3 separate regions of the Homo sapiens genome follow, and regions 1 and 3 are each linked to region 2. The links come from fine-mapping of genetic effects on gene expression. A gene starts in region 2. Each other region holds a variant in brackets. All regions are shown on one strand. Distances are between the middles of the regions.

Region 1 (4,103 bases), 36 kb after region 2:
CCAATCTATGGTGGGCAGACACTCCGGAGACTGAAGTGCACACATTTGCCATGTGCTCTATGGCAGGCTCAGGTGTGGGAAGGAGGTGCAGGGTGTTGGTGCAGGTATGGATGGGGGAGTGTACAGTTCCAGGGGACAGAGTCAGGACAGGCTCTTGGGTCAGACAGCCCTGCTCTGATCTGTGCATAGCAGCTTTCTGGGCTGACATTTCCATGCCGTGGGATGATACCTCGCAGGGCGCCTGGACCGAGGGCTAAACCCCACAGTGGGTGTGAGATGCTGGCCTGGGCTGGCGTGAGGCAGGATGCTGGATGAGTCTAGCTGCTGGTCCTGTGGCTGCTGGTCCTGGGAAAGGAAGGCTAGTGGTGGAGTCTGGTCCTCCATCCGGCTCTCCGTGGGGACACAGAAAGGGTGGGGCCACCCAGGGCCTCACCAGGGAAGCAGGACTTGAGCTGGACTGTGAAGGACTCAGAGAAAAAGGGGAGGGTGTTCAGGACAGGGAAGGATGCACCACAGCCTGGAGGTTGGAGTGTGGGAACTGTTGAACGAAACAGCAGCTCTCCCAGCCCAACTTCCAGAAACTGTGCATCTAATCAACACAGGCCGGGCACGGTGGCTCACGCCAGTAATCCCAGCACATTGGGAGGCCAAGGCGGGTGGATCATTTGAAGTCAGGAGTTTGAGATCAACCTGGCTAACATGGTGAAACCCCATCTCTACTAAAAAATTCAAAAATTAGCTGGGCGCGGTGGCTCACACCTATAATCCCAGCACTCTGGGAGGCCGAGGCGGGTGGATCACGAGGTCAGGATATCGAGACCATCCTGGCTAACACGGTGAAACCCCATCTCTACTAAAAATACAAAAAATTAGCCAGGCGTGGTGGCGGGTGCCTGTAGTCCCAGCTAGTCTGGAGGCTGAGGCAGGAGAATGGCATGAACCCAGGAGGCGGAGCTTACAGTGAGCTGAGATCGTGCCACTGCACTCCAGCCTGGGCTACAGAGTGAGACTCCATCTCAAAGAAAAAAAATATATATATATATTCAAAAATTAGCTGGGCATGGTGGCATGCTTCTGTAATCCCAGCTACTCAGGAGGCCGAGATTAGAGAATCACTTGAATGTGGGAGTCGGAGGTTGTAGTGAGCTGAGATCACACCATTGCACTGCAGCCTGGGTGACCAAACGAGACTCCATCTCAAAAAAAAAAAGTTGGGTGTGGTGGCTCAGGCCTGTAATCCCAGCACTTTGGGCGGTTGAGGGAGGTGGATCACCTAAGGTCCGGAATTCAAGACCAGCCTGACCAACATGGAGAAACCCCATCTCTACTAAAAATACAAAAATTAGCCAGGCATGGTGGCGCATGCCTGTAATCCCAGCTACTTGGGAGGCTGAGGCAGGAGAATCGCTTGAACCTGGGAGGCAGAGGTTTCGGTAAGCCAAGATCGCACCATTGCACTCCAGCCTGGGCAACAAGAGCAAATCTCCATCTCAAAAAAGAATAAATAAAAATACAAAATAAAAATACAAAAAAGTTAGTCAGGCGTGGTGACGGGTGCCTGTAATTCCAGCTACTCGGGAGGCTGAGGCAGGAGAATTGCTTGAACCCGGGAGGTAGAGGTTGCAGTGAGCCAAGATCATGCCACTGCACTCCAGCTTAGGGAACAGAGTGAGACTCTGTCTCAAAAAAAAAAAACAAACCCAAAACACAAAGCACTTCCTGTGTGCCAGGCCCCGTTCTAAGCACTTCACACATAGCAAGTCATTTC[A/C]TCCTGATAGCCTTCCCCAGCGGTGAGTGAAGCAGGCCCAGAGTGGATGGGGAACTTTGCCCAGGTTGTACAGCCTGCTCAGGCCCAGCTTTCCTCCAGCAGGAAGGCAGTGGGATCCCACCTGGGTTTATGCCCTTCTCTGCTTCCTGGGGGGCCTGGGGCTACCGTGGGAGAGGAGAGCCTGGGGACTCAGGGAGGGGGCACTTTTGTCTTTGAACTGCAGGCCATCTGTGGTGCTGTGGGGGGAGGCTTGCTAAGACCCTTGCCACCTTCACCGGGGTGAGGACCCTGCCCTGTGGTGGGTGGAACCAAGACTCAGAGGTTCTCTCCCTGCCCTCAACCACCCCTCCCTAGAGGGACAGCTGTGGGGATCCACTGAGCCCATGCCCCCACCTGCTGGCCCATCCAGCCCCTTGCTGGGCACCACAGGGGTGAGGACCCAGCACGTGTGAGGGCTTTTTTTTTTTTTTTTTGAGGTAGAGTCTCGCTCTGTTGCCCAGGCTGGAGTATAGTGGCATGATCTCGGCTCACTGCAACATCCACCTCCTGGGTTCAAACCATTCTCCTGCCTCAGCCTCCCAAGTAGCTGGGGTTACAGGCTCCTGCCACCATGCCCGACTAATTTTTGTATTTTTAGTAGAGATGAGGTTTCACCATGTTGGCCATGCTGGTCTTGAATTTCTGACCTCAGGTGATCCACCCACCTCAGCCTCCCCAAGTGCTGGGATTATAGGCATAAGCCACCACGCCTGGCCGCATGTGAGGGCTTTAATCTCCCCTGGCACTCTAAGTGCTCCTCGGTGCTGGGTCAACAGCATAGTCACGTGGGGAGGGGCTGGTGCTGGGTGCTGGGATCGGGGCCTTCCCAGCCACAGCGCCACTGTGGCCCTCTCCCCACAGGGAACTTCTAATGGATTGGGGTCCATAGATGACATCGAAACAGGTAATGTCCCCGATACGAGGGAACAAGTGGAAATTGGGGCCCCGAGAGGTCAGGGGAGTCGAGCCCCCTCCCCATCCCAGCCCTGTAGATGGGAGGGCCTCCGAGGGGTTCCCCACCCTGGTACTCCCTGAGGCATGGGAGAAAACAGTGGGTTGAGAGCTACAGACCCACTCAAGGAGGGGAGGGCATCTCTAGTCTGGCAGAGAGGGGTGCTGCCTCTTAGCTAGGTGCAACAGTCCCATGGCCTTCACTCCTGGCTGCCTGCACACCCCCACCTCTTCCAAAGCCCTTTCCCCTCCTCTTCCTCATTGGCTTCCAGAAAAGGTTGCCTTTTAAGAGTGTCCCCTGGAGAGGGCATTGCTTACCCCAGAAGAAGGAGGCAGCAGTGGTGGACATTTAGGCATTGAGCCTGGGCCAAGGATTGACATCATAGGACTGAGGGCCCCTCCCTGCTCTGGGGCTGTGGCCTTCCTTGACCACCCCCTGAGCATCTGCCAGTGGGATCAGCCGATGGGGAAGGCAGGGCTCCTGGCAAGAGCTGAAAGAAGAAGGGAAAGTGTTGGATGAGCATCACGGGGCCCGGGACGCCTCCTCCACCCTCACCAAGCAGTGCTCCCCTTCGGCTCTTGCCCACCCCATCCGCAGACTGCTACGTGGACCCTCGAGGCTCCCCAGCCCTTCTCCCCTCCACGCCCACGATGCCCCTGTTCCCTCACGTTCTGGACCTGCTGGCCCCCCTGGACAGCAGCAGGACCCTCCCCAGCACCGACAGCCTGGATGACTTCTCAGACGGGGATGTCTTTGGCCCAGAGCTGGACACCCTCCTGGACTCGCTGGTGAGCCACACCACCCTCCTTGTGCTCCCCTGATCCCCTCTCCCCGCTGTGTCCCCATTGTCCCAGGGGTGGAGGGAAGGCCCCAATGCTCATGTCATGTGTCTCAGGAGGAGGCCTCAGTAGGGACTTGTTTGGTACAGAAATGAAGCTGCACACTGGGCACGGTGGCTCACGCCTGTAATCCCAATACTTTGGGAGGCCAAGGCAGCGGATTACTTGAGGTCAGGAATTCGAGACCAGCCTGGCCAACGTGGTGAAACCCCCTCTCTACTAAAAATACAAAAATTAGCCGGGCATGGTGGCACATGCCTGTGGTCTCAGCTCCTCAGGAGGCTGAGGCCGGAGAATCGCTTGAACCCGGGAGGCGGAGGTTGCAGTGAGCCGAGATCACACCACTGCACTCCAGCCTGGGCAGTGGAGCAAGACTCCGTCTCAAAAAAAAAAAAAGAAATGAAGCTGCACAATGTCTGGCCAGAAGGGACCATAGTGAGCCCTGCTCCCACATGGGACAGGATGAAGCCAGGCGACAGGGTGCAGGTCTCCTTGCTTCCCCAAG
Region 2 (4,103 bases):
CTACAGGCGCCCGCCACCATGCCTGGCTAATTTTTTGTATTTTTAGTAGAGATGGGGTTTCACCGTGTTAGCTGGGATGGTCTCGATCTCCTGACCTTGTGATCCACCCGCCTCGGCCTCCCAAAGTGCTAGGATTACAGGCCTGAGCCACCGCGCCCGGCCTAATTTTTGTATTTTTTTGTAGAGACAGGGTTTCACTACGTTAGCCGTGCTGGTCTCGAACTCCTAACCTTAGGTGATCCACCTACCTTGGCGTCCCAAAGTGCTAGGATTTCAGATGTGAGCCACCGTGCCGAGCTACAGGGTTTTTGAGAGGGTAAAAGAATCAACATATGCAAAGTGTTTGGCTCATAGTAAAGAAGCGGTGGCTGTTACTGCTATTTCAGCTTTAACATGGGGACATAGAGCACACTGTGACAACATGGGACTGACAACATGGGGCTTCCCAGAAAGCCTACCGATGCCAGCCTCCTGGCCCTTTTCTTTTTCTTTCTTTTTTTGAGACAGAGTCTCACTCTGTCGCCCAGGCTGGAGTGCAGTGGCATGATCCCGGCTCACTGCAAGCTACGCCTCCCGGATTCACGCCATTCTCCTGTCTCAGCCTCCTGTGTAGCTGGGACTACAGGCTCCCGACACCACGCCCAGCTTATTTTTTGTATTTTTAGTAGAGATGGGGTTTCACCGTGTTAGCCAGGATGGTCTCGATCTCCTGACCTCATGATCCGCCCGCCTCAACCTCCCAAAGTGCTGGGATTATAGGCGTGAGCTACCGCGCCCGGCCTCCTCCTGGCCCTTTTCTCCAAAGCATCCTCACCTCTGGTTGGGGTCTTGTAATAAAGACCCCTTTACCATCTTAGGCAGCCCAAACAATTGAACAAGTTGGTACCAACTTGAAGAGATAAGAGGCTGGTGTCCTGCTGAATCCCCCTTGAATGATGGACAGTCCTCTTCAAGAATATGTGTTCATTATTTCACCAGCAACCTGGGGTGGTGGAATCACCAGACCATTTGCCATCTAGTTCACTTGAGGCAAAATGCAGCAATCCAACTGGCCTCAGCATCCTCATCGATGAAATGAGAGTGATAATAACCATGGTGGTAAATGTGATAAGTTGTCAAGGGTGTTTCATTGTAAATTGCCTAGGGGGTATTGGGAACTCACACACACACACACACACACACACACACACACACACACACACACACACACATATATTTCTGGAGACAGTTTTGCTCTTGTTGCCCAGGCTGGAGTGCAATGGCATGATCTTGGCTCACTGCAACCTCCACCTCTGGGGTTCAAGTGATTCTCCTGCCTCAGCCTCCTGAGTAGCTGGGATTACAGGCACCCACCACCACGCCTGGCTAATTTTTGTATTTTTGTAGAGATGGGGTTTCACCACGTTGGCTAGTCTGGTCTTGAACTCCTGACCTCAGGTGATCCACCCGTCTTGGCCTCCCAAAGTGCTGAGATTACAGGCGTGAGCCACTGCACCCAGCCCTGATTGTCAATATCTAATCAGGTTCCTCATTTTCCACCATTCCCCAGGTGATGTCTGATCACCTTGCCCTGCCTTCAGCAAGAATCTTGTTAGATGGGTTTAAGCGAGAATCCTCTCATCTCTGATGCAGTTTCCTATGCACTGGCGCTCAATCAGTGGATCCTTTCTCCTTCCTCATAAATTCCCAGTTGCCCATGCTGATTTCTGAATTGAGCCCAAATACTCTCCCTGACCGCAAAACCCACTGCAGTGGTCCCTACACCCATCATGATGCCAATAAAGTCGGCCTTGTAGTCTTTAACAAGTGTCATTCAATATTTTTTTTAACATCCTATACATAAAACTCCAGCCAAGTGAGGTCCTGATTCTTCTATGTGTCTCCGGTTCCCATCTATGAGAAGGGCACAACGCAACCAGGGTTTTGGGCAGCCTTCCATGAAAGCACCTGGAAGCCGGAGAAGGGGGGCGGGGGGACTTTTGACACAGATGGGGAAGGGCGGAGGCGCTGGGTTTGAGCAGCATCAGCCCAGAAATGCAGAACTGCCAAAAGAAACCCCCCTAAAAGGCAGGACACTTTTAAAGAAAATAAAGGTGAATTCCAGGCATGAGCTTTCGACGGGGAATGGGGCTTCCCCGACTCGCCCCCACGCCCCCCGCCCTTCTCCCCAGGTGCGCAGCCCGCGCCGCCCACCCCGGGCGCGGCGAGGCGACGGGAGCCGAGCTCTCTAGGACCCGAGGAGGAAGAGCTGCAGGGAGACAGTGCCTCCAGCGGGTGCTGCCGCGAGCGGCCAGCCGAGGGGCTGGAAATGAAAGTAAAGCGCTCCAGAGCCACATGGACGGAGCTGCCGGGGCGGCGGCGCCGGGAGCAGGATGCGGCCGCCCGTAATTAAATAGCATTTACTCTTATTATTACTAATAATAATAACGTAATCATACCTCTAGTCATAGCATACCATTTATCGGGCTCGGCGCAGGCCCGCGGGGAGCGCAGCCCGGCGGAGGTGAGTGCTTGGCGCGGCCCGAGCCCCGCGGGGCAGAGGCCGGGGACACTGCGTCCGGAGCCGCCCGCGCGCGAGGGTTCGGGGACGCCCGGGCCGGGCAGGGCTGGGGAAGAGGCGAAGAGAGCCCTTTCCAGGCCGGGGCCGCGCGCCGGGCCACCTGGAAAGTGGGATTTTGCAAAAAATAAATCGTCTCTAAAACCCCATTTGCTCCTTTTTGGGGATCCCGGTCCCCGTGCCCTGCCCCAAAGTTTAAAAGTTACCGTGTGGCCGGGGGCACCTGGCGCTGGGGAGACTTGGCCGCCCCTGCAGCCCCCAGGAGGTGTCTTGAAATTTTCGTGGGGCCTCTCTCTTCGGCGTCCGGAGCTTCTGGGGTGTCCAGATGCTTTGCCGACCCCGCGCAGGGGGTCTCGGGGGCTGGCAGGGGCGTCGCTGGCAGGGCCCCCCTTCCTTTTGTGTTGTCCTTGGCCCCGCAGCACCCGGAGTTGGAGGGGCCGCGGCGAGGGCCGGGGAGCGGGGCCGCCCGACGGGCCGCCCCTTTCGGCTGCGGCGGCCACGCGAGCCCGGGGATCCGGGGCCTGCAGCCGGGCCCGCGGGAAGGGGGCGGCAGGAAAGGGGGGCGCGGTCTGGGCCTGCTGGGCAGGGGGGCGTTTCCGGTCGCAGGATCAGTCTCTGGACTTCGAGGCCTGTGGGAGGCCCGCGGCCGTCCAGGGAGTGCTAGGGGGCTGCGGACCCCGGCTCTGGCGCCTGGGGACGGGGGCGCCCTGACGGGGCTGGGGGCCTGGGAGCCGCCGACTCCGGCCTCATACCCCCATCCTGCCCGCTGCGAACCTCAGGGCCCCCCTCCGGGTTTGCTCCCTCCTCCTTTCCCCTCCTTTCTCCTCAACTCTGTCTGTTTTAGGCGTTTATAAGGCGCCTGGTTGGGGGGACTTTCACAGACAAAGCCGTCTTCCCAGGGGGGAAAATAATCATATAAAAACAGCTCACTCTGATAGAACCTGATGGCTGTATTGCCAACAGGGCATTGACGGGGAAGACTAGGGGGCTAGGGCCCTGCGTGGGGAGTCTGGGGGCTCTAAAAGGGGGCTGGGCCTGAGTGGGGAGCTGGTGATCAGCGGTTTTATTTCTCGGGTTGCTAGCTTTGGCATCAGACTTTGAACCCCAACTTCTTGCCATATTCCTCAGCATCTGCAGTTCAGCCTGATGAAAATAGCAGAATGCAGATCCTTGAATTTTCACACAAATGAGATAATTATAGTACATGTAGCAACTGTGTTGGACACAAAATGCTGGCAGAATCTTTAGTTCTACTACCAATACTTCCTCTACACACATACAGCCATCCCCTCCGTGGTGGTCTTCTTTCCCCGTGTCCACCTCCCACAGAAGTTGGACTGCAAGGTGGAAATGACACCTGGTCAACAGTTGGATGGAGCATGTTTGAGAAGTGGGGAGACTTAAGGTGGGAAGAAAGAACCTGTCCAGGAGGGATGAGATCTGAGGATGGGAGAGAGACTTTGTTGTCCCTGAGCTGGGATAAAGTTTCTGTTCTGTAGATGCTGTGTGTTCTTAGCTGCTGGCTTTTGTATAGGTTAGACAGGAA
Region 3 (4,103 bases), 57 kb after region 2:
GAACAAGAGTGAGTGGGCAGACGGGGCGGGCGGGCCCTCCCCCGGTGTCTCTTCAGTGCTGAATGTCTCAATTCACCAGCGGGCCCAAGAGCGTCCACTGCACCCCTTTGCTACCTGGGCCCTTCTCCACCTGCCCCATGCCGGGCCCTCTCTGAGGCCAGGCCCTGAGGCTGAGCGGCCTATCAGCAGGACTTGGGACGCCCACGGCTCCCAAATCAAGTGGGGACCATGGGGCAGAATGGATGGAGAAGCCCCTCAGCAGGTGCCCTGTCCCTGTCCCCTGCCCAGTCCTGGACATGCAGCAGACCTATGACATGTGGCTGAAAAAACACAACCCAGGAAAGCCTGGAGAAGGGACCCCCATCAGTTCTCGGGAAGGGGAGAAGCAGATCCAGATGCCCACGGACTACGCGGACATCATGGTAACGCCTCCGCCCTGCATGCTCGGGGCTGCGGTCGGGGCTGTGGTCTGAGCCTCACCTGGGAGGGGCAGCCTGGAGGGCCCAGCCGGCCAGCGCTCAGCCTCTCCGAGGTGGGTGGTCCGGGCAGAGGTGTGGGGGAGCAGGCACCCATGATGGCTGTGCTCCCAGATGGGCTACCACTGCTGGCTCTGCGGCAAGAACAGCAACAGCAAGAAGCAGTGGCAGCAGCACATCCAGTCCGAGAAGCACAAGGAGAAGGTCTTCACGTCCGACAGTGACGCCAGCGGCTGGGCCTTCCGCTTCCCCATGGGCGAGTTCCGGCTCTGCGACAGGTGCTCCTGGGAGGGCAGGGCCTGGCGGGACATGGGGTGGCCCGAGGAGATGGAGTCCGTGGCCAGCTCTGGCTCCTCTTGGCCTGGAGGTGGTGTGCAGGGAGTGGTGAGGCTTGGCTGTGACTGCAGCCATGGGGGTGGTGGGGAAGGGTGGATGGGAGGGCTGGGCTCAGACCTATCTAGACCTTTAATTTGCAGCTGTGGGGCAGATCCCAGAGAGGGTCAGGACACCCAGGTTTTCCCTGAGCTGGGACCCAGCTGCCCAGGGAGAGGCTTGTCTTCGGGGAGGTCAAGCGGCCGGCCCCAGATGGACAGCCTGGGGTGGGAAGGGCACAGAGCTCGGGCAGTGAGCCTCCTGCCACCCACAGGCTCCAGAAGGGCAAAGCCTGCCCAGATGGGGACAAGTGCCGCTGCGCCCATGGACAGGAGGAGCTCAACGAGTGGCTGGACCGGCGCGAGGTGCTGAAGCAGAAGTTGGCCAAGGCTCGCAAGGACATGCTGCTGTGCCCACGGGACGACGACTTTGGCAAATACAACTTCCTGCTGCAAGAGGACGGGGACCTTGCCGGTGCCACCCCAGAAGCCCCTGCTGCTGCTGCCACCGCCACCACTGGGGAGTAGGGCCAGGTGTTGGCCGTGGGTGAAGTCCTGGGGTCAGGGGGTGGGGTGGGGCCAGAAGGCCTGATAGAAGGGTCAGGGCAGGCCAGGGGGGTGGGGGGCCGCCCTCATCAGGCAGCCCCCAGCCCCCTGAGGCCCTGTCCATCTTCTCCCCACCACCGCCCCGGTGTGC[G/A]TACCCAGGCGCACGTGCTGCAGCCCCCGGAGGCCCCGCTGAAACCTGGGCTGCCCTTCCCCCACCCCCACGGCTCTCCTGGTTGAGGAGGGAGGGGCCTGGCTGACCCCTCCAGCTTCAGCCTCCAGCTTTAACTTCTGTCTGCTCCTAATGGGGGCCCAAAGCTCAGGGCTGGGGAGCCTGGGGTCCCCACTTGAATCTCCAGCAGGAGGGTCCTTCTCTCCCTGGCCCGTCCTCCTCCCACCCCCTCCCCCTGGGGGCAAATCAGGACACAACAGAGGGCAGAGGCCCCATTAGCTTTAAAATGTAGCCCCAGGTTGGAGCTGGGAACACTGTACTGGCCACTTACCCTCTGGGGCCTCAGCTTTCCCTCCGGAAGGCTGGGAGGAGGTGGGCTAGATGATCTTTGGAGCTTAAGGAGTCCCAGCCCTTTCTCTGATGCCACCACCTGAACCCTGCTCCCTCGTGGGCCAGTGAAAATAGACTGTAGGTCCTCAGAGCCTTCAGAGATGATCCAGCCCAAACCCCATTTTGCAGAGAGGAAAACTGAGGCCTAGAAGGGAGGAGTGGTCCACCCACGGTCCCAGCACAAGGCAGAGCTGGGATGAAAACAGGGCTGAAAAGACTCAGGGCCAATTATTGGCTGAGCCCACGGTCCCCTCAGCAGGGATGCGATGGTCTCTGAATCAGTGTGCAGCTGGGGTCCCAGGCAGCGCTGCCTGGGGGCTGGGGAGGGGAGGCCCAGAGGAGGGCTGGCCATGTGAGCACCCCATGAAGGGACCGCCCCCTCCCAAGGATGGTCCCTTTGGGTGCAGCAGCAGAGGTCACCTCCTGACATGCGCTCTGGGAAAGGTGGCAGAGGGCAGGACACCATGAGCTCAGGATCTGTGTGAGGTGTGGGAGGTGGGAAGGGTGAGGGTCTGGGGGAATGCGGAGAAAAGGGAGGCTTGACCCCGGGCACCATGGGCCACTCCAGGATGGGACACGGCCCCTCTTTCTTGGGGACCCAGTATGTCCTCTCCTCTAGACCCAGACATACAGTTATAACCGTCTGTCCTAGCCCCTCCCTAATCCCTGGCCCTCCCAGCTGTCTGGGACTTCAGTGGACCCCCAGCCCCTGCCCCCACTCACCAAGGCCTCGCTCGTCCCTCTCGTCTGACATGTCTGTGTGCACCCCCCTCCTCTCCACCCTACCTTCCATCAACCAGGGCAGATCCACCGTGCCCTGGTTCCCCAGACATTCCAGAATGCCCCACATCATTGGCACAGGAGTGGGGCAGCCCCGGAAGGAACCAGGGATTAGGCTGTAGGGGGGTGAGAAGGAGAGAAGGGACCACCCCATTCTTCTCAAGCAAGGATTGCCAGCGCGCGCTGACACAGTGATGGGCTGCCCAGGGCTGGAGGGGACGCTGTTCCTCCCGCCGCCACTGCCCAACCTTTCCTGATAATCGTGGCATGCGCCCTTTCCTCTTCCCTGCCCCACCCCCTGGCCGCAGCAGGCCAGCACTGCAGAGTTTGGGTGCTGGTGGTGTGGCTGTAGGGGAGGGGAGACCACACCCAAGGTGGGGGCTGTGGCCATGTGTGGCCGTGATGTCGATGATACTCGTTTTCCCTGATCCGTGGTGTTGCAGTCCGTTGTCACCAGCCTTGTTTCTAGTGTGTATATATGTCGCCCCCGTGATGCATATATACACAGGTATTAAATATATCGCTCTATATAATATTATATATGTGTGTGGTATCCAAGGAATCACTTTTATGAGGGCTAAAGATAAAGAATTTGGCCAGAAAATGCAGCCATCCTTGTGTGATTAGGAGGGTTTCAGGGGCCACTGGACTATTTGCAAGGTGACAGGGACTGGAGCCATGGCTCAGAGGTGATTCGGGCAGCCAGGGACAGGAGCCACCCTCCCCAGGCCCAACTCTGCTAGCTTCCCAGACCACCCCCATCGAGTGCGGAGAGAGTGGGAGTGCTCAGGGAAAGAAGGTGATTTGTATTTGTCTCCCCGCTGAAAAGAACAGGATTCAAGTCCAGAGTTTTCATCTTCAGCCTGTGATCTGTCCAGGGACCCTTGGGATCTGGGGCTTCCTGGCCTGGCCAGAGCTGGAGCCCCCACAGGGTAAGGAAGAGAGAGTGGGAGGCAGAGTGTGATGGGGAGGAGGGACAGGAAGACCCTTTTAATGATGAGGGTAACTATTTCAGTTGTGAGCCTTCTAGGGCCCCAGGCTGGGAGGCTCAGAGGACTGAATCTGGGACCTGTGTTCCCCCCGGCAGGCAGGGACAAGATGGCATGGCAAGCATGGGGGCGGGGTGGGTGGGGAGGGATGCTGCATTTCTCAGCTGGGCAGTAATCAATTTAATGGTCCTTTAAAATGTCTGTGTATTAAAAATTTAAGAATACCACACTTTAATATTAAATATTCATAAGGTCTAGTATCTTGATAATAATGTAGATGTTTTAATAACAATTTTTGTCCTTCTTAAAATAAAATGAAAGAAACTTGCTTCCCTTAGCCTTTGTTCTAGAAAATAAACTTGTGCACTTTGACCTCTGTCCC

Alleles and levels. Positions count from the first base shown, and alleles are read on the strand shown. Sizes are in standard deviations (SD) of each study's normalised expression. Not every link is listed here.
With allele A in place of G in region 3, the expression in prefrontal cortex of the gene that starts at base 2,256 in region 2 is higher (small effect, 0.25 SD a copy in GTEx).

Evidence for each region.
Region 1: its variant is fine-mapped to the expression of ZC3H7B in whole blood (TOPMed, PIP 0.98).
Region 3: its variant is fine-mapped to the expression of ZC3H7B in prefrontal cortex (GTEx, PIP above 0.99).

What each region holds. Positions count from the first base shown.
Region 1 is chr22:41,335,645-41,339,747 of GRCh38, forward strand. It overlaps ZC3H7B (zinc finger CCCH-type containing 7B), which reads left to right. Exons shown (of 23, transcript NM_017590.6): 8 at 2,669-2,711; 9 at 3,357-3,547. Among named protein-coding and RNA genes, the nearest start is that of ZC3H7B, 36 kb to the left of the region's middle. The variant A/C (reference allele first, on the strand shown) is at 1,769.
Region 2 is chr22:41,299,270-41,303,372 of GRCh38, forward strand. It overlaps ZC3H7B (zinc finger CCCH-type containing 7B), which reads left to right and starts at 2,256. Exons shown (of 23, transcript NM_017590.6): 1 at 2,256-2,503. It also overlaps a transcript of RANGAP1 not described here. RefSeq lists silencers at 1,943-2,282, 2,563-2,632 and an enhancer at 2,364-2,865.
Region 3 is chr22:41,356,055-41,360,157 of GRCh38, forward strand. It overlaps ZC3H7B (zinc finger CCCH-type containing 7B), which reads left to right. Exons shown (of 23, transcript NM_017590.6): 20 at 1-8; 21 at 289-422; 22 at 591-754; 23 at 1,123-4,093. The coding sequence ends at 1,375. Among named protein-coding and RNA genes, the nearest start is that of TEF, 24 kb to the right of the region's middle. RefSeq lists an enhancer at 3,942-4,103. The variant G/A (reference allele first, on the strand shown) is at 1,545.